Regions from separate parts of the Homo sapiens genome. Here region 2 is linked to region 1. A link means that fine-mapping ties the variant in region 1 to the expression of a gene that starts in the linked region. Tissue or cell type: Th2 cells. Region 1 holds a variant in brackets; the other region holds the start of a gene. All regions are shown on one strand. Distances are between the middles of the regions.

Evidence for each region. PIP is the estimated chance that this variant, and not a neighbour inherited with it, causes the effect.
Region 2: NT5M starts here. The variant in region 1 is fine-mapped to the expression of NT5M in Th2 cells (Schmiedel 2018, PIP 0.95).

The regions. Positions count from the first base shown.
Region 1 is chr17:16,970,572-16,976,280 of GRCh38, reverse strand. TNFRSF13B (TNF receptor superfamily member 13B) reads left to right here and starts at 4,163. Exons shown (of 5, transcript NM_012452.3): 1 at 4,163-4,266. The coding sequence starts at 4,206. LOC284191 (a long non-coding RNA gene) reads left to right here. Exons shown (of 3, transcript NR_148948.1): 3 at 1-282. RefSeq lists enhancers at 264-393, 2,442-2,491, 2,562-2,731. The variant C/T (reference allele first, on the strand shown) is at 3,044.
Region 2 is chr17:17,300,621-17,306,329 of GRCh38, reverse strand. NT5M (5',3'-nucleotidase, mitochondrial) reads right to left here and starts at 2,957. Exons shown (of 5, transcript NM_020201.4): 1 at 2,513-2,957. The coding sequence starts at 2,779. RefSeq lists silencers at 2,388-2,577, 2,708-2,807, 2,858-3,027 and an enhancer at 5,001-5,576.

The sequences.
Region 1 (5,709 bases):
ATCTCCCTGGGAAATATTGATCAACAGGCCAGTGTTGCCTTTCTTCAAACAATTTAACTTAAGGAGCTCATGCCCCTCAAGGTGACAAAGACGGTAAAATGTGAATTAAATGAGCAGATGTTACGTGTTTAGAACAGTGCCCTAAGTTTTCCCTGTTGTTACTCCCAATGATCACTGTAGGAGTTCATTTCAAAAGCTAAGAACTGTCCGGCAGGCTATACTAAATGGAAAAGGTGGCATGCTAAACAGCAACCTTGATCTGTATAAGCCAGCAGTTGTGTTAAAAAAAAAAAAAAAAGGTATGGAGGGGGAGGGAGAGGTGAAATATATCCTCTAGCGACACGCACATGCTCAGAAATGCCTAGGCTTTGCTGGGAGGCTGTATGAACAAGGTCCACTAAGGGTTGCCGCCTTTGAGTAGGGACATCATGGGCCTAGGATAACCAGACAGGAGAGAAATTTACTTCCGCCATATTCTTTTACTGCTTGAATTTTTTTCTTTACTATGTGTGCATTTTAACTCGCTAATTATACATATATAAATGAACCAGGTCCAAAACCTTAAGGTATATGAGTTATCTCTACTCTGGGTTCTAAATCTCTTCTGTCACCTTGGCTGTGGAGCTTAAAATTAGAATCCCGCATCCTCTTGGGAGACAGCTCAAAAAAAGGCTGGTCTCAGAATGAGCTTTAGAAACCTCCAGCACCTGTTCAATCTTCTGGGGGAGCCAGTGCAGAGGGGGAATCTATTTTTGTGTTTCATGAAACGATCCCATTTGTATGTTTCCATTTATACAAAGTTTGGGGAACAAGCAAAATGAATCTGTGGTGGCAGGAGTCAGAATTGTGACTCTCTTGGGGATGGAGTGGGGTGTGCTGGCTGGAAGGGGCAGTGAGGGACCTTCTGGGGGCTGTGCATGCTCTGAGTTGTGATCTGAGTTGTGGTTGCCTGGGTGTGCATGTATGAGAACACTTACTGAACTTCCCATTTTAAAAGGGTGCATTTCACTGTCTGTAAATTACACCATCTAATTAAAGAAAATAGAAAGCAAATTAAATCCATTCTCTGTAAACTGCATTTGAGCAAAAGCATTAACAAGCTGTGATTGGCAGTAAGACATTAGGGAACTCTGTCATTCAATTCTCAGCCACTCCCCAAATCAGGCTGGATTTTGTTTGTTTTTCATTTCAGGCATAACAGGTATTGGCTTTAAAACTCCAGGACAATGTGTGTGGCTGCAGAGAGCAGCATTCAGTCCCATGGAAGCACAGTCTGGAAGCACAGTCTGCTCACTGGACAAAGCTGAACTTGCTGTCTTTCCTTCTTCTCCTTCCTTCTCCTCTTTCTCCTTCTCCTTCTTCTTCCTCCTCCTCCTTTTTTTGCGACAGGTTCTCATTCTGTAGCCCAGGCTGGAGTGCAGTGGTGTGATCATAGCTCACTGTAGCCTTGAACTCCTGAGCTCCAGCCCAGTGTTGCAATCCTCCAGCCTCCCAAGTTGCTAGGACTACGGGTGCACACCACCACACCCAGCTAATTAAAAAAAAAATTAGGCTGGGTGCAGTGGCTAACGCCTGTAATCCCAGCACTTTGGGAGGCCAAGACGGGTAGATCACTTGAGGTCAGGAGTTCGAGACCAGCCTGGACAACATGGTGAAACCCTGTCTCCAATAAAAATACAAAAATTAGCCGGGAGTGGTGGCTCACTCCTCTAGTCCCAGCTACTCAGGAGGCTGAGGCACGAGAATCGCTTGAACCCAGGAGGTGGAGGTTGTAGTGAGCTGAGATCACGCCACCACACTCCAGCCTGGGCAACAGAGTGAGACTCGGTCTCAAAAAAAAAAAAATTATAGAGACAGGGTCGCTATGTTGCCCAGGCTAGAGCTGAGCTTTCTAACCATCAGAGCTACCCCCCAGGGAGCCAGCTGCTCCGTGAGGTGGTGAGAGCCCTGACCCTGGGGGTATGCAAACAGGAGGTGAGGGGGGACTCAGTGAGGGCATCCTGTAGTGACTTTGGGCTTGCCCATTTCAACAGGCAGAAAGTTCCTGGCAATGGGATCTCTTTCTTACCTCTCTCTTAGAAATCCACTGCCAGAGCCCAGCTATGGTTTTGTCACTGTTCATTGACACAAGTAATTAAATGTAAACAAGTAATTAAATGTAAAACCCCTACAAATGTAAAAGCCCTAAATGTAAAATGTTTAGCCCTACAAATAGGGCTAAAGTCCCCTTTGACGGTCACCCCCAGTCCTGGTTCCCTCTTGCCCCACCCGGCGAGAGCCAGTTTCGTCATGCATGTCTTTGCAGACTTCTTATGCTTCACAGTCATGTGTGCGTGATCACAGACAACACAGCGCTGTACTGTGTGTGTGTGTGTGTGCATGTTGTTTGCTTTTGGTTTTGTTTTACTAAAAGGCATCATGCTGTAAGGCTCATGCTATAAGCTACTTTTATTTACTCAGCGTCTGTCCTGAAAGCTTCGAGATTTCTCATTCTTTTAACTGTGCAATAGATTCCTGGCTCTGGCCTGTGCACCCTGCTTATTCAGGCATCCTCTGCTGCATGGACATTTACATTGTTTCCCGTTTCTCGCTGTCATGAGGAGGCTCACGGAGGAGGAGAATTTCTGGGGGGTGGGTTAGGTGTGTGTTGTGCATTTAACTGACCCTGGCTGGTTACTCTCCAGAACGCTGCTGCCAGCTCCCTCCCTCCAGTGGGCCCTGAGTTCATGCTTCTGTAGATCACCCCCCTGCCCTTGATGTTACCAACTTTAAAACTTTGCAACCTGATGGCTGAAAGTTAGTTTTTCATTGTTCAGTTGTTTTTCTGATTTTTGGGAGACTGGACATTTTCCTGTGTTTGCTGACCGTCTGCATCTCCTCTCCTGCTCTGTGCACCATCACCCTGCTCCAGCTGCTTCCTGCAGCCTCCCTCCTTCCTCTCCACCTCTCCATGTCCTCCTCGTCCTTCAGTTTCTTCCTAAGGGCCCATGGGCTTTCTTTGGCTTTTACGTTCCTCTCACTCCGCCTTTGGCTGTTGCTGGGC[C/T]TCCCATCCCCTGGGAGGTTTCAGACGATGGGGAAGACACAGGAGTGCAGTCGCCATGCAGTGCAATACGGGCTGTAATGTTCCTCCTCCACGGCCTTTATTGAGGACTTACTGTGTGCCAAGAACCTGCTCTAAGAATGTAACTGTGCTCCCTCCCTCATTTCATGCTCATAACCGCCTGTGAGGCGGGCAATGTTCTCATCCTTTTTTTTTTTTTTTTTTTTGAGATGGCATCTCTGTTGCCCAGGCTGGAGTGCAATGGCACGATCTCGGCTCACTACAACCTCTGACTCCCAGGTTCATTCTCCTGCCACAGCCTCCCAAATAGATGGGACTACAGGCACGCGCCACCACACCCGGCTAATTTTTTGTATTTTTTTTTAGTAGAGATGGGGTTTCACCGTGTTGCCCAGGATGGTCTCGAACTCCTGAGCTCAGACAATCCACCTGCCTCGGCCTCCCAAAGTGCTAGGATTACAGGCGTGAGCCACCATGCCCGACCTCATCCTTGTTTTACACAGAGAACATGGAGGCACAGAAGAGTTCCATAAATTGCCACCAAGGCCTTCTGCTAGTATGCAGCAGAGTCAAGATTCAAACGCAGGCTGTCCGGTCCTGGGGTTCAGCCTCTCCAGTGCTCTGCTAGGTGTTGGAGAGGGTCAAGGAGATACAGAGAATGAGTACCACCTGACAGGCTGGGACAGTCAGGGATGGCTTCCTGGAGGAGGTGACACCTCAATGGAGCCTTGAAGGAAGAGCAGGAGGAGCCGACCAGGCAATGAATAGAATAAGTATACCCAGGAAGAGGGAAAGGCCTGAGTGATGCTGGGAGGGTGGAGAGCTGGCCTGGCTTGGGGTGTGTGCCGGCGGGCAGGAGATGAGGACCAAGGGATGGCCAAGGCCAGATCTAGAAGAGCCTGGGCCATCCCATAGTCAATACCTCATCGCAAGGCCCGGCAGGCCTTCCACTGCTCTGTGTGTACCCCATGGGACGCCAGGAGCCTGGGCCGCAGCCACCCACCTGGGCTCCTGAGACCCAATGCACAGGCATGGGGGCGGGAGTGGGTGTGGCTGATTTACATCCAACAGGTTGAGGGGAAAACCCAGGAAGTGCAGCCCAAGCACTAATCAAATCTAAGACTAGTAATAAGCATCCTGAGTAATGAGTGGCCTGGGCCGGAGCAGGCGAGGTGGCCGGAGCCGTGTGGACCAGGAGGAGCGCTGTGAGTAGCCGGGCAGGAGGGCAGGAGGGCAGGTGGGAGGTGTGAGGAGGGTTGGGCCTGAGTGCCGTGGGGGTTGCAAGGTCCAGCAGGTGCAAAGCCCACAGCAGATCCACACACTGGGGCAGTCCCAGCCTCCCCAAGCTCCTGCACATGGAGAGCCCCGAGTCTGGATGCCTCTGGGATGTGGGGCTTGCCTTCCGTGACAGAAGCCACTGAGGTTGCAGGGTTGGCCACACCGGCAGGAATTCCCTTTGTCACCATGGCCCCTGCACAGCCCCCATTTTCCCCCTTACATGCCCGCTGGACCATTTTAATGCTAATCTCAAATACCAGATTGTTTGAGTTGTGGAGACCACAGGATTTATTCCTTAAGAACACAAACCCTAAAAACAAAACAAAAAACTAAGCATCATACCTTCACCCCTGCTGAAACAACAATTCCTGAACATCATCACATAGCCCGCCAGGGTTCAAACTGTACCAACTGTCTCACCAATGTCTTTCTCAGTTGACTTGTTCAAATCAGCCTGTCCCACATTAGACTTTTGGCTATGTTTTAATCTATAACAGTTTCCACCCATTTTTTCTGTTATATATTTATATTTATATTTATCCTATAGCTTTCTTTTTTTTTGTTTTGTTGTTTTGTTTTTGTTTTTGTTTTTTGAGACAGAGTCTTGCTCTGTCACCCAGGTTGGAGTGCAATGGCATGATCTCGGCTTTCTGCAACCTCCGCCTCCCGGGTTCAAGCCATTCTCCTGCCTCAGCCTCCCGAGTGGCTGAGATTATAGGTGCCCACCACCACGCCCGGCTAATTTTTTGTATTTTTAGTAGAGATAGGCTTTCGCCACGTTGGCCAGGCTGATCTCAAACTCCTGACCTCAGGTGATCCACCTGCCTCAGCCTCCCAAAGTATTGGGATTACAGGCATGAGCCACGGCACCCGGCCCGTATAGCATTTTCATCAGGGTGGGTTTCTAAGGTTTTATGAAAGGGCCCCAGGTCCTTTAGTGCAGACAGAACCCATGGCCAGATGGACCCGGGGCACAGCCTAGATTCACAGCCTCTGCCTGCTGCTCTGTCCCACACCTCAGGCAGGGAGCAAATTTGTTCTTCAGTCCTTTTTTGTGTCCAGCCACCAAGTCCCCAGAATCTACACAGCCAGGGGCTCAAATATGTAAAGTTTCTGAGAGACTTGGACAAGGCAGTGACCAGAGGCTGCCTTAACACAGGATGAAATTGCCCAGTGCTCTGGGGCCACGAGTCAGGACCCAGCTAGAACTGTGACCTGGCAGTGGCAGAAGCTGTCTGGTGCTGCCGAATCAGCCCTGGCCGGTTGTCCACTGGCCCACTCTGGGACCTTGGCTGAGCCGCTTCCCCTCAGTGTAAAATGAAGAAGACTGTCTTTCCTACCAGACATCCCTCAAACACACAAAAGTGCTT
Region 2 (5,709 bases), 330 kb before region 1:
AGAGACCAGCAAAGGTGTCAGGCCCATGGACTCCTACACCTGCTGGAGCTCTCTGGGACCTGAGGCCAATCATCAGGAACTGCGTGCTTGTTAGGCTGGATTCGAGTGGCCAAAAGCATTGTGGAAACTGAGGCTGGACCAGCTCTTACCATGGTAGTAGAGTCCTTAAACTTGAGAACTGGAGGGACTCAGAGATCTTTAAGGTGCCATGAGGGACAAGGGGGAGGGGGAGACAGGGTAAAAGGACAATTCAGGGAGCTCGAGGATCCTCCCCACATTAACCAGAAGAGCTCTGCTTTTATCGGTTTTATATGTTGAGGTGCCAATAAGTACATTTTTAAAAAAAGGATTCTGCTGCTTTTAGAGTTGCAAAGCAAAAATGCAGACCCTCATTTTACATGTCAGAAAACTGAGGCTCAGAACGGGGAAGAGATCCACCTGATGTCACACAGCAAAACAGCAGCTGAGCTGGGAGAAGAACCCCCAACACCAACCCTCTCCTCCCCACTCCCCAACCCCCGCTGCCTTTCTCCTTCCCCTGTTCTGCTGCAGGGCCAGAATGCAGCACCTTTTCTAGGGTCAGGCAAGGGGAAAGTGACAACCAGAGGGGAGACACATCTCAGCCTATGAGCAGGAGCCTAAATCCCACGTGTGCAGTACAGGAAGTGCCTCTACCAGCTGTTCTGCACACTACAGAAAGACAGCCACCCTGTCACATGGACGGCCGGAGGATGCCCTGACAGCATACCAGCAACACTCTCAGGAACCACAGGGACTAGGCAAATGCGTGCTTATTACTGAAACACATTTGATCCTCACATCCCACATAGGGTACTGTGAAGACCAAAGGGAATACAGACAGAGCAGAATTTTGAAAAGTAGAAATGCCTACATACACATAAGGAGCCACGTGTGTGGGGGCGGGGGGGGGGGGGCGGTTGTTTTAACCACAGATACTGGGCCAGCTTGGGGTAGGCCCAGGGATGTCCACAGCAGCAAGCCGTGCCTCAGGAAGGGAAGTAGTGGAAGCCAGCAGATTACTCCCAAGGCACCCTCCTTACTGCCCCGTGCCTTTGCCTTGTGCTTGGAAACCAGTAACCCCACACGTACAGAGCCTACATATTTGCACAAAGAACTGGAAAAGCTGCTGCACTTTTCGGAGTTGGGGGTGGGCTTGGTTTCCACGTTAATACACTCCCGGGCGGATATATGGTGTCCAGACTCCCCATGCCGAGCGCTGCCTATAAATGAACACTCGCCACACACTGGAGCCTATTCCTGAGGCTGCAGAAAGTACCAGGGCATTTTCTCCAGTTTAAAGTTTATCATTAGGCATCCGCTGTAGAAGAGCTCAGCACACTGGGCTCTGTGAAAGTCACCTTCTGAAGTGCCTGGTGTTGATGGAGACAAACGGTACTTGGTTTCCTTTTTTAACACCTGTCCCTCAACAAACCACATTACTGATGAGGCATCTTTCTGATGTCAGAAGAAATGTCACTTGTTAGAGACAGTAGTACAGAGAACAGGACTGTGGAGTGGGGAGCACTAACTGTGCTTGGGAGGCAGACAGACTTGGGTTTGAGTCCTGACTGAGCCCCTGAGCAGCATGTGACTTGGGGCAAGTTTCCTCATCTGGAAAACAGAGATAATAATATCTACCCAACAAAAGAGAGGATGCAGTGAACTTGTGGCTAAAAAACGGGCTCTTGTAACTTCCTTCTCCTCTTTATCAAACCCTCCAGCAGCAACCCTAGGTGGCCAATCAAGGGATGCCAAAAAACACTCAGCCTCTTTAATTTTGTGCATACCAAAATCCCCTGTTCCTTTTGCAAAATACTTCAAATTTACCAACCAAGATCTGTGTGTAAACGTCCCTCCTTGGATCTTTCCCCTCTATCCATCCTGGACAGAACACCTCGGGAGTCGGATGGTAGGGGTTGAGCTCAGGTGTTCAGCAAGGCCAGCTCTGCAAGGGGATAAGACATGAGGTGGATCCCACCTCACCTGGACCACTGACTCACTGTGTGACCCCCAGAAAGTCACACAACCTCTCTGGGCCTCAAATACCCCTGGAAGCTATGCTTTCATGGACAACAGTAAAAAAGATGGGTAAAGACACCCATCAAAGTCCTGGGGACAAAGAAGTGGGAATGTGACTGCGGTCGGGGTGAAAGAGGACAACTTATAACGTTTATTTTTCTAAAAATTTAACAAACGACTTGAGGCCAAATATGCCACAAATTTTGAAGTCAGCTTTAAATGCAGAGTTAGGTATATTAACACTTTGTACTCTCCCGCATTTTCAGAAACCTTGGATGGCAGCCAACAGATCCTGAGCGCGGGGCCGCATCTTCCCGGTGCGCTGTGGCCCCTAGTCCCCCCCAGACCCTATTCTATCAGAGGGCCACCCCGAGGCTGGGGCGCTGACCGTCCAAGGTCACCGGCGCAGGGGCGGTGTCTGGGGCTCGGGGCGAGAAGGAGGCCCGGCGCGGGGCGGGGCGGGGACGCTCACGCTCAGCCCTGGCCGCAGGCGGCCGTACTGCTCCGACACCCAGAAGCCGCGCCGGTCCTCCAGCGCGATGAAGGGCTGGTCGGGAAAGCGCGCGCGGAACTTCCTGAGGAATCCGCCCTCGAAGTCAGCCAGCACGCCGTCCATGTCCACCAGCACCCGTAGGGCGCGGCCTCCCGCCAGGCCCAGCCCGCCCGCCGCCCCGCGCCGCCCCGCGGGAACCGCCGCGCTGCAGAGCCGCCGCGCACACCAGCCGCCCAGCCGGATCATGGCCCAGCGCGCTGGCCCGTCGTGGGCGCGGGGACCTGGGCCGCGCCGTGCTGCCGGAGCCGGCCAGACATTCCCGCCGCGGAGGAGAAGCCCCCAACGCTGGGGCGCGCGTGGAGCGCGGGACGGGGAGCGGGGCGGGGAGCGCGGGGTGCGGGCGCGCAAGTACCGGCCCCAGAGCGAGGCCGCGGCGCGCGCGGTCCCTAAAGGAACACGCGCCGGCGGAGGCGGAGCCCCGGGGCGGGGCTTCGAGGACGGACAGCGGTAAGCGCCGCGCGCCTCCAGAAGGTCCGCGCTCCCGCGCTGTCGATTTGCGTCTTCTCCGTGGACCCTGGGCCCGGGCTGCCTTCTCCCACTGCACAGACTACCATGGAGGAGCAGTGCAAACCGAGAAGCAGGCCTGTGTCGTTAGACATTTTTGAGCACTAACTGTGTCGAGTGTGAACCAAATAGACAAAGTTCCTGCCATCCTGGAACTTACGTTTTAGAAGGGGATCCAGACAACAGGATGGAGGAACAAAAACAGGGTGCACTCTGAAAGCCTCTCTGCTTTATTTACAGCAAATGTCTGCGGAGAGACTGATAGAACCAATATCTGCTAACATCATACAGCCTTAGTAAAACTGATGATTCTCAGGTAAATATATGAATAAATATTAAGTACCCCTGTATTGCTTTTTTTTTTTTTTTTTTTTGGAGACGGGGTCTTGCTCTGTTACCCAGGGTGGAAGCAGTGGCATGATCTCGGTTCCCTGCAGCCTTGAGTTTCTGGGCCCAAGGGATCGTCCTGCTTCTGCCTCCTGAGTAGCTGGGACCACAGGGGCCTGCCACCACACCCTGGTAATTTTTTTTTTTTTTTTTTTTTTTTTGAGACAGGAGTCTTCCTATGTTGGGCTCAAACGATCCTCCCACCTCAGCCTCCCAAAGTGCTGGGATTACAGGCGTGAGCCACCGCGCCCGGCCTCTTTTCAACTTTTAAGTACAGGGATACATGTGCAGATTTGTTATATAAATTGACTGTCTTGGGGGTTTAGTGTACAGATTATTATTACCCAGGTAATAAGCGTAGTTCCTGATAGGTAGTTTTTCCATCCTCACCCTCCTCCCACTCTCCACCCTCAAGTAGGTCACCGTGTCTGTTGTCCCCATCATTACGTCCATGTTTACTTAATGTTTAGTTCCCGCTTTTAAGTGAGAGCATGAGGTATTTAATTTTCTGTTCCTGTGTTTGCTTAGGATAATTGTCTCCAGCTCCATCCATATGGCTGCAAAAGACATGATCTTATTCTTTTTTTATGACTGTGAAGTATTCTATGGTATATATGTACCACATTCTCTCCCTTTTTTTTTTTTTTTTCTTGATAGGGAGTCTTGCTCTTGTTGCCCAGGCTGGAGTGCAGTGGCAGGATCTCGGCTCACTGCAACCTCCACCTCCCAGGTTCAAGCGATTCCCCTGCCTCAGCCTCCCAAGTGGCTGGGATTACAGGCGCCCACCACCACACCCAGCTTTTTTGCATTTTTAGTAGAGACAGGGTTTCACTATGTTAGCCAGGCTGATCTCCAACTCCTGACCTTGTGATCTGCCCGCCTCGGCCTCCCAAAGTGCCGGGGTTACAGGTGTGAGCCACCGCACCCGGCCGATTTTTGTATTTTTAGTAGAGACAGGGTTTCACCATGTTGGCCAGGCTGGCCTCAAACTCCTGACCTCAGGTGATCCGCCCCACCCCCCTCGGCCTCCCAAAGTGCTGGGATTAAAGGCGTGAGCCACTGCACCCAGCCTGTGTTACAGCTCTTTTAGCCCCACCATTTGGCAGGTCCCGAGTTCTTGTCCTGCATCCAGGAAGAATGGGGTAGGCAGACAAGTGGAGAGTGAGCAAGACGAAGAGGAGCTTTATTGAGCAACAGAATACTTCAGAAGAGACCTGCAGTGGGCAGCTCCTCTCCATAGCCAGGGTTTCCCCACAAGTGTTCAGCTTTCAGCAGAGAGGGTAGCTCCTCTCTGGTAGGCAGTTCATCCCAACAAGTGTCCAGCTCTCAGCAGAAAGGGTAGTTCCTCTCTGCAGCTGGTTTTCTCCCCATCTACCCGTCCTCTCTTTGAGTCTGGCTGAGTCCAGGGTTTTTTATGGACCTCAGAGGGGAAGAAGTGAGTGCTGATTGGTCCATGGGCGGCCATAGGTGGCCATGAGCAGGCCTGGGGAAAAGCACCACAAGTTCCCCGCTCTGGTACTGGGACTGGTGACCTGGCCCCCAGGCTTCAGGCCCTTCCAGGATTGAAGGTGGGGCTTCACCAGGGACCCGCCCCCTTCCACCGAGGAGCTGTCTGCATTCCTGCTGCTGTTCATGGCGCCCAGGCTGTTCATGCCAAGGGGTACCTGCAGGCCAACACCAGGCTGTCCTCATGCCCCCCTCGGCCGTTCTCCGATGCTTGTTGGCACCCAAGTCCGGAGGGGGCCAAGGAGGCAGGGGGCTGGCGTGTCAGTGCTGCCCTGAGCGTGTGCACTCCCGGCTGGGCTGTGACGGCGCCCTAGCTCGGCCCGACTTTGCTCCGAGATTGAAGCAGGCACCAACAGCAGGGAGAAGCCAGGCAGCAGGAGCAGGCACTTCCGAGCCTGCGAGGGGCAGTGGAGCCTTCACAGGTTCCCAAGAGCACAGAGATGCTGGGCCAGAGCCGCAGCAGGGCAACTGCAGCGGCATCTGGGGAACTCCCGCCCCGCCAACTCAGAAGGGGCGGGGCTCCTGCTGTGCCTTCTATATTGGGTTGCCGTTGCAGTTTTTTAAAAACTCCATCCATCAGGCCGCGCACGGTGGCTCACGCCTGTAATCCCAGGATTTGGGAGGCCGAGGCGGGCGGATCACCTGAGGTCGGGAGTTCGAGACCAGCCTGACCAACATGGAGAAACCCTGTCTCTACTAAAAATACAAAATTACCCGGG